2 linked regions of the Homo sapiens genome follow. The protein of the gene in region 1 purifies or fractionates together with the protein of each later gene. This does not show direct contact. Each region holds a gene or a part of one and is shown in the gene's direction. Other genes may lie near its edges.

Region 1 (3,500 bases):
AAGTATCTATTCTTGTCCTTTGCCCACTTTTTAATGGGGTTGTTTGTGTTTTTTCTTGTAAATTTGTTAAATTCCTTATAGATGCTGGATATTAGACCTTTGTCAGATGCATAGTTTGCAAATATTTTCTCCCATTCTGTAGGCTGTTTACTTTGTTGATAGTTTCTTTTGCTGTGCGGAAGCTCTTTAGTTTCATTAGATTCCATTTGTCAACTTTTGCTTTTATTGTGATTGCTTTTGGCATCTTTATCATGAAATCTTTGCCAGTTCCTATGTCCAGAATGGTACTGCCTAGGTTGTCTTCCAGGGTTTTTACAGATTTGGGTTATACATTTAGGTCTCTAATCCATCTTGAATTGATTTTTGTATATGGTGTAAGGAAGGGATCCAGTTTCAGTCATCTGCATATAGCTAGCTAATTATCCCAGCACCATTTGTTGAATAAGGAATTCTTTCCCTATTGCTTGCTTTTGTTGAAGATCAGAGGGTTGTAGGTGTGCACCCTTATTTCTGGGCGCTCTATTCTGTTCCACTTGTCTATGTGTGTCTGTTTTTGTACCAGTACCATGCTGTTTTGGTTACTGTGGGCCTGTAGTATAGTTTGAAGTCTGGTAACATGATGCCTCCAGCTTTGTTCTTTTTGCTTAGGATTGCCTTGGCTATTCTTTTTGGTTCCATATGAATTTTTAAATAGTTTTTTTCTAGTTCTGGGAATGTCATTGGTAGTTTGATAGGAATGGCATTGAATCTATAAATTGCTTTGGGCAGTATGGCCATTTTCACGATATTGATTGTTCCTATCCATGAGCATGGAATGTGTTTCCATTTGTTTATGTCATCTCTAATTTCTTCGAGCAGTATTTTGTAATTCTCATTGTACAGATCTTTCACCTCCCTGGGTAGCCATATTCCTAGGTATTTTATTCTTTTTGTGGCTATTGTGAATGGGATTGCATTCCTGATTTGGCTGTTGGCCTGGCTGTTGTTAGTGTATAGGAATGCTAGTGATTTTTGTATGCTGATTTTGTATCCTGAAACTTTATCAAAGTTGTTTATCAGCTGAAGGAGCTTTTGGGTCGAGACTATGGGGTTTTTACTTTTTAGAATTCTATTTTATGTCCTGTGATTGCATATTAGCTATAATTGTTTGTTTTGTTATGTAACTAGTTATTTTACATCTTTATGTCTACCTTCAAATGATTGTATGCTGCTTCATGTACAGGATAAGAACCTTATAGTAGTATACTCCCATTTGTCCCCTCCTACCCTTTATGCTGTTGTTGTCATCCATTTTACTTTTACATATGTTATAAACCCCACAATATATTGTTTTTGTTTTTGTTTAAACAGTTATCTTTTAAGGATAATGATAATAATGCCTTAGTCTCCTACAGAAGCACTTGCCAATCCACTCCCTGCCAACTTCTCTGGCCTCATATTCGACTGTCCTCACTGCACCCATTGATCCAGGCATACTAACCTCTAACAACTTATCACTGTGCCCTTCCTCCCTTCCTTCTCTTACTCCCCCTACCCACTTTCCTATTGAGTTAAGTTGATCCTTTTCTGAACTTCCATTGTAATACTTTGTGTCCACATTGTTATTTTAGCTTTTGTCAACCTCTAGTGCAGGGATCCCCAACCCATGGGCCGTGGATCAGCACTGGTCCATGGCCTGTTAGGAACGGGGCTGCACAGCAGGAGGTGAGCAGCGGGCTAGTGAGCATTATCGCCTGAGCTCCGTCTCCTGTCGGATCAGCGGTGGCATTAGATTCTCACAGGAGCGTGAACCCTGTTGTGAATTGCGCATGTGAGGAATCTAGGTTGTATGTTCCTTATGAGGGTCTAATGCCTGATAATCTGAGGTGAAACAGTTTCATCCTGAAACCATCCCCCTACCTCTGCCCTGGTCCATGGAACAGTTGTCTTCCATGAAACCAGTCCCTGGTGCCGAAAAGGTTGGGGACCTCTGCTCTAGTATAATGGCGATTTTTCTGTGTGGTATCTCTCACAGGTCATGGGCTGCTCATGGACAGGAACTTCTTCCAATTATACCCAGAATCCCAGCAATAGAAGGCTCTCAGTACATAAGGAGTATAGAAAAGTTCAATGGAAGTATTCTGAGAATTTGGTTCAATGACGTTAATGCCTTTTGTTGTCTCACTTGGACTCATATATAGCTATGTATATTCTTGTCATTCCAGTGGAATGGCACTTTGGGAAAACATGAAGATGTGGTATCTTTGTGATAGAAGTGAGCTTCTTAACACTAATGGGAATTAAATATGTCACGCACTTAATAGATATTGACAAAAAATTAAAACTGATAAGGGGATAAGGAATTTGAAATAAGTCTTTTTCCATTTCATTGATGTGGTTCTAGGTTTTGTCTTCTGTAAAAAGAGTTTCCTTTGGAGATGCATTAGGAGACAATCTTTAGTTTTCATTAGTTTTAAGTAGCAGTAATTCATGAAACAGTAGCCCAGGGTTTTCAGAGTTTAATTAATGTTTTGAATATGATTAATTTATCACCCAGGGAAAATGTTAACTACCTAGGAAAAATGACAGAATATAACTTCTTATGAGGCCCTTTACTTAAAACCTCATTAAGTAGCAAATCAGAATTTTGTTTTAAAAAATTGAAATTTATTAGAAGACTATGCATCTCTCTATATTGAAAGTCATAATTGATATAATCCTATAAAATACAAAATTCCTGGAAAACTGGAATCACAAATATATATTTGGAAAACTCGTGTTAAGTTTTATGGAAGCACAAGTCTATGGCAGTAGTTGCTACTTTGGCCTTTTTCTTTCAGTGAAAGATGTCATGTATATCTGCCCATTTATGGGAGCAGTGAGTGGAACCCTGACAGTGACGGACTTTAAGCTGTACTTCAAAAATGTCGAGAGGGTGAGTTTTTTAAAGTGTGTTTTATTTTAAAAGAAACACTTTTAAAAGAACACTAAAAGAAGAAAGTAAAAAGTCCCCTGAAATCCCATTACCCTGAGATAACCACAGGTTGGATTTTGAGATGCACACATTTGCAAACAGATGTTTGTATCTTGAAAACAAAGGCTGTTAAAGTACCGCTTAAACCTGGAGGGGAAATTCCATTGTTGTCTCAATATATATTTCACAAGGAATGCTGTCAATCAGACTTCAATTTAGCTGGGACAAAGAGGAAATGCGAAGTAAACAAACATGTTTTGTAACCCAGCAAAGACTTAAAATATGAAAACTGTTGACTGACACTAATAGGCATTGATCTTAATTTTTGAACCTAGGACCCGCATTTTATCCTTGATGTTCCCCTTGGAGTGATCAGCAGAGTGGAGAAGATTGGAGCACAGAGCCATGGAGACAATTCCTGTGGTATAGAGATAGTGTGCAAGGTATAATAGAAACGCCAAGTGAAAACTAAAAGAGGGCAATCAGCTCTGAACTTTTTCTCCCTCAGTCTCTTCATGGTCTTTGGACAGTAGAATAATTTGTACTG
Region 2 (3,500 bases), on another chromosome or scaffold:
CGCCATGTTGTCCAGGCTGGTCTCGATCTCCTGACGTCAGGTGATCCACCCACCTTGGCCTCCCAAAGTGCTAGGATTACAGGTGTGAGCCACTGCGCCCGTCCCTTTTTTAACTTTTTAGGGAAAATATAAATAAATGTGTAGCTTGGGAAATGAGACTCTTCATTTAAAGAAGTGTGAACTTGACACATGATTCTTAGCCATATCCTAATATTTTCAAAATTAGTACAGGTGACCAAGAAAAAAAAGAAGAAACAACACAAGATTCCAACAAATGACGAATTACTGTATGATCCTGAAAAAGATAACAGAGATCAGGCCTGGGTTGATGCACAGAGAAGGGGGTAAGAACTTAAAGTTAATATTTAGAATCTTTAGAAAAAAAGATTGAAAGATGATTTTTACTACATTCACATTTTGAATATATGTGTATATGTTTACACAAACACACACACACAAACAAAAAAGTTAGAGGAAAAAACTGCTCAGTAGTTTATTTTGAAAATAACCAGCAAATTTTAGTGAGACTTTTTTTTAAAATTTTTTAAATTTTTATTATTATTTTTGAGACAGAGTCTTGCACTGTCGCCTGGGCTGGAGTGCAGTGGCGCGATCTTGGCTCACTGCAACCTCCGCCTCCTGCGTTCAAGAGATTCTCCTGCCTCAGCTTCCCGAGTAGTTGGGATTACAGGCGCCTGCCACCACACACAGCTAATTTTTTGTATTTTTAGTAGAGACCGGGTTTCACCATGTTGGCCAGGCTGGTCTCGAACCCCTGACCTCGTGATTCACCTGTCTCGGCCTCCCAAAGTGCTGGGATTACAGGCTTGAGCCACTGCATCCAGCCCGACAATTGTTTTTTTGTTTTTTTTTAAACTTGTTGAATTTAGGCTGCGTTAGTCAATCTCTCCCTCAAGAAAAACTGACTTTTTTTTTCAGATGCTGTTTTAAATTACTTTGAGATTAAGAGTTTATGTGGATGGGCCAGGGTGGTGGCTTATACCTGTAATCCCAGCAACTTTGGGAGGCCGAGGCAGGTGGATCACCTGAGGTCGGGAGTTTGAGACCAGCCTGGCGAACATAGTGAAACTCTGTCTCTACTAATACAAAAATTAGTGGGGCCATAGTGGCGCACACCTGTAATTCCAGCTACTCAGGAGGCTGAGGCGGGAGAATTGCCCAAACCTGGGAGGTGGAGGTTGCAGTGAGCTGAGATCACGCCACTCCACTCCAGCCTGGACGACAGAATGAGACCCTATCTCAAAAAAAAAAAAAAAAAAAAAAAAGGGTTTTGTGGATGAAGAGTGGATTTAGCAAATTGTTCTTTTTAACTACTTACAAATTTGATTTTTAAAAATTGAGATGAGGCTGGGCATGATGGCTCACACCTGTAATCCCAGCACTTTGGGAGGCCAAGGCGGGCGGATCACTTGAAGTCAGGAGTTCAAGACCAGCCTGGCCAACATGGCGAAACCCCATCTCTACTAAAAATACAAAAATTACCTTGGCATGGTGGTGTGTGCCTGTAATCACAGCTACTCTGGAGGCACAAGAATCGCTTGATCCCAGGAGGTGGAGGTTGCAGTGAGCTGATATTGTACCACTGTACTCCAGCCTGGTCGACTGAATGAGACTGTCTCAAAAAAAAAAAAAAAATTGAGATGAGGCTACTCTAGGTACACTGCTTATGGAGTAGCCCTGCTCTGCAAGGAGCAGTTAAAAATTTTTTTTGAGATAAAATTCACATAACAAAAGTACCCACTTTAAAAGTGAACAATTTAGTGGCATTTAATACCATTCACAATGTTGCACAGCCACCACTTTTATGTAGTTTCAACCATTTTCATCATCCCAAAAGGAAACGCTGTACTGTTAGGTAGTTTCCCTACCCTTCCCCTCAGCCCCTTGGCAGCCACTGATCTGTGCACTGTCTCTGTGGATTTGCTTATTTTAGATATTTCTTATGAATGGGATATTATACAGTATGTGACCTTTTATATCTGGCTTCTTTCACTGGGCATAGTGCTTTTGAAGTTCATCTACATTTTAGCACATGTCAGTACTTCTCTACTTTTTATGACTGAATAGTATCCCATTGTATGTGTATACCACAATTTGTTTATCCTTTCATCCACTGAGGGATGGATGTTTGTGTTGTTTCCACACCCTCTGCCCCCACCTTTTTTTAAGAGATGCCTGGGCTGGAGTGCAGTGGTGCAGTTATAGCTCACAGTATCCTCAAACTTCTGGGCTCAAGCACTCCTCCTGGTTCAGCTTCCTGAGTAGCTGTGACTGTAGGCACACACCGCCTCCCGGGTTCAAGCACTCCTCCCACCTCAGCCTTCTGAGTAGCTGGGACTATAGGCACACACCACCTGGCTAATTAAAAAAATTTTTTTAATAGAGAGGTCTAGCTGTGTTGCCCAAGGTGATCTTGAACTCCTGGCCCCAGGTGATCCTCCTGTCTTCACCTCCTGTGCTGGCATTACAGGTGTGAGCCATTGTGCCAGGCCATTTTTTTTTTTTTTTTTTTGAGACGGAGTTTTGCTCTTGTTGCCCAGGCTGGAGTGCAAATGTGATCTTGGCTCACCGCAACCTCCTCCTCCCAGGTTCAAGCGATTCTTCTGTCTCAGCCTCCTGAGTAGCTGGGATTACAGGCATGTGCCACTGCACCTGGCTAATTTTGTATTTTTAGTAGAGATGGGGTTTCTCCATGTTGGTCAGGCTGGTCTCGAACTCCTGACCTCAGATGATCCACCTGCCTCGGCCTCCCAAAGTGTTGGGGTTACAGGCATGAGCCACCGCACCCGGTCATTTTTTTTTTAATTTAAAGACAGGGTCTTGCTGTGTTGCCCAGACTGTAGTGCACTGATGCTATCATACCTCAATGTAGCCCTGAACTCCTGGGCTCAAATGATCCCCCTGCCTCAGCCTCCTGAGTCCATGCTTGTTTTTTTTGTTTCTAATTTAATTTTTAATAGACACAAGGTCTTGCTATGTTGCCCAGGCTGATCTTAAACTCCTGGGCTCAAGCAATCCCCTCCTACCTTGGCCTCCTTAAGTGCTGGGATTAAAGGTGTGAGCCACCATGCCCGGTTTATGCTTGTTTATTTTTATTTTCATTTTTTTTTTTATTTTCTTATAGAGACAGGGTTTCACCATGTTGCCCAGGCTGGTCTCAAACTCCTAGGCTCAAGTGATCTGCCCACCTTGGCCTGGGATTACAGGTGTAATTCCAGCCTGGCTCTATGCTTGTTTTTGTTTTTGTTTTTTTGGGACAGAGTCTCGCTCTGTTGCCCAGGCTGGAGTGCAGTATCGCAATTTCGGCTCACTGTGACCTCCACCTCCTGGGTTCAAGCAGTTCTCTGCCTCAGCCTCCCAAGTAGCTGAGATTATAGGTACCCGCCACCATGCCTAGCTAATTTTTGTATTTTTAGTAGAGACGGGGTTTCACCATGTTAGCCAGGCTGGTCTTGAACTCCTGACCTTGTGATCCACCC

What was found. Proteins that work in one complex are often made in the same cells at the same time.
Region 2: the proteins of MTMR1 (region 1) and EAPP purify together in Homo sapiens (affinity purification with mass spectrometry, with the first as the bait; one large-scale study listed by BioGRID). This does not show direct contact.

The regions. Positions count from the first base shown.
Region 1 is NC_000023.11:150,724,396-150,727,895, forward strand, and holds part of MTMR1 (phosphatidylinositol-3-phosphate phosphatase MTMR1), read left to right. Parts: intron 1-2,819; coding exon 2,820-2,914; intron 2,915-3,288; coding exon 3,289-3,396; intron 3,397-3,500. UniProt on the Homo sapiens protein: Lipid phosphatase that specifically dephosphorylates the D-3 position of phosphatidylinositol 3-phosphate, generating phosphatidylinositol. Could also dephosphorylate phosphatidylinositol 3,5-bisphosphate to produce phosphatidylinositol 5-phosphate.
Region 2 is NC_000014.9:34,526,202-34,529,701, reverse strand, and holds part of EAPP (E2F-associated phosphoprotein), read left to right. Parts: intron 1-226; coding exon 227-344; intron 345-3,500. UniProt on the Homo sapiens protein: May play an important role in the fine-tuning of both major E2F1 activities, the regulation of the cell-cycle and the induction of apoptosis. Promotes S-phase entry, and inhibits p14(ARP) expression.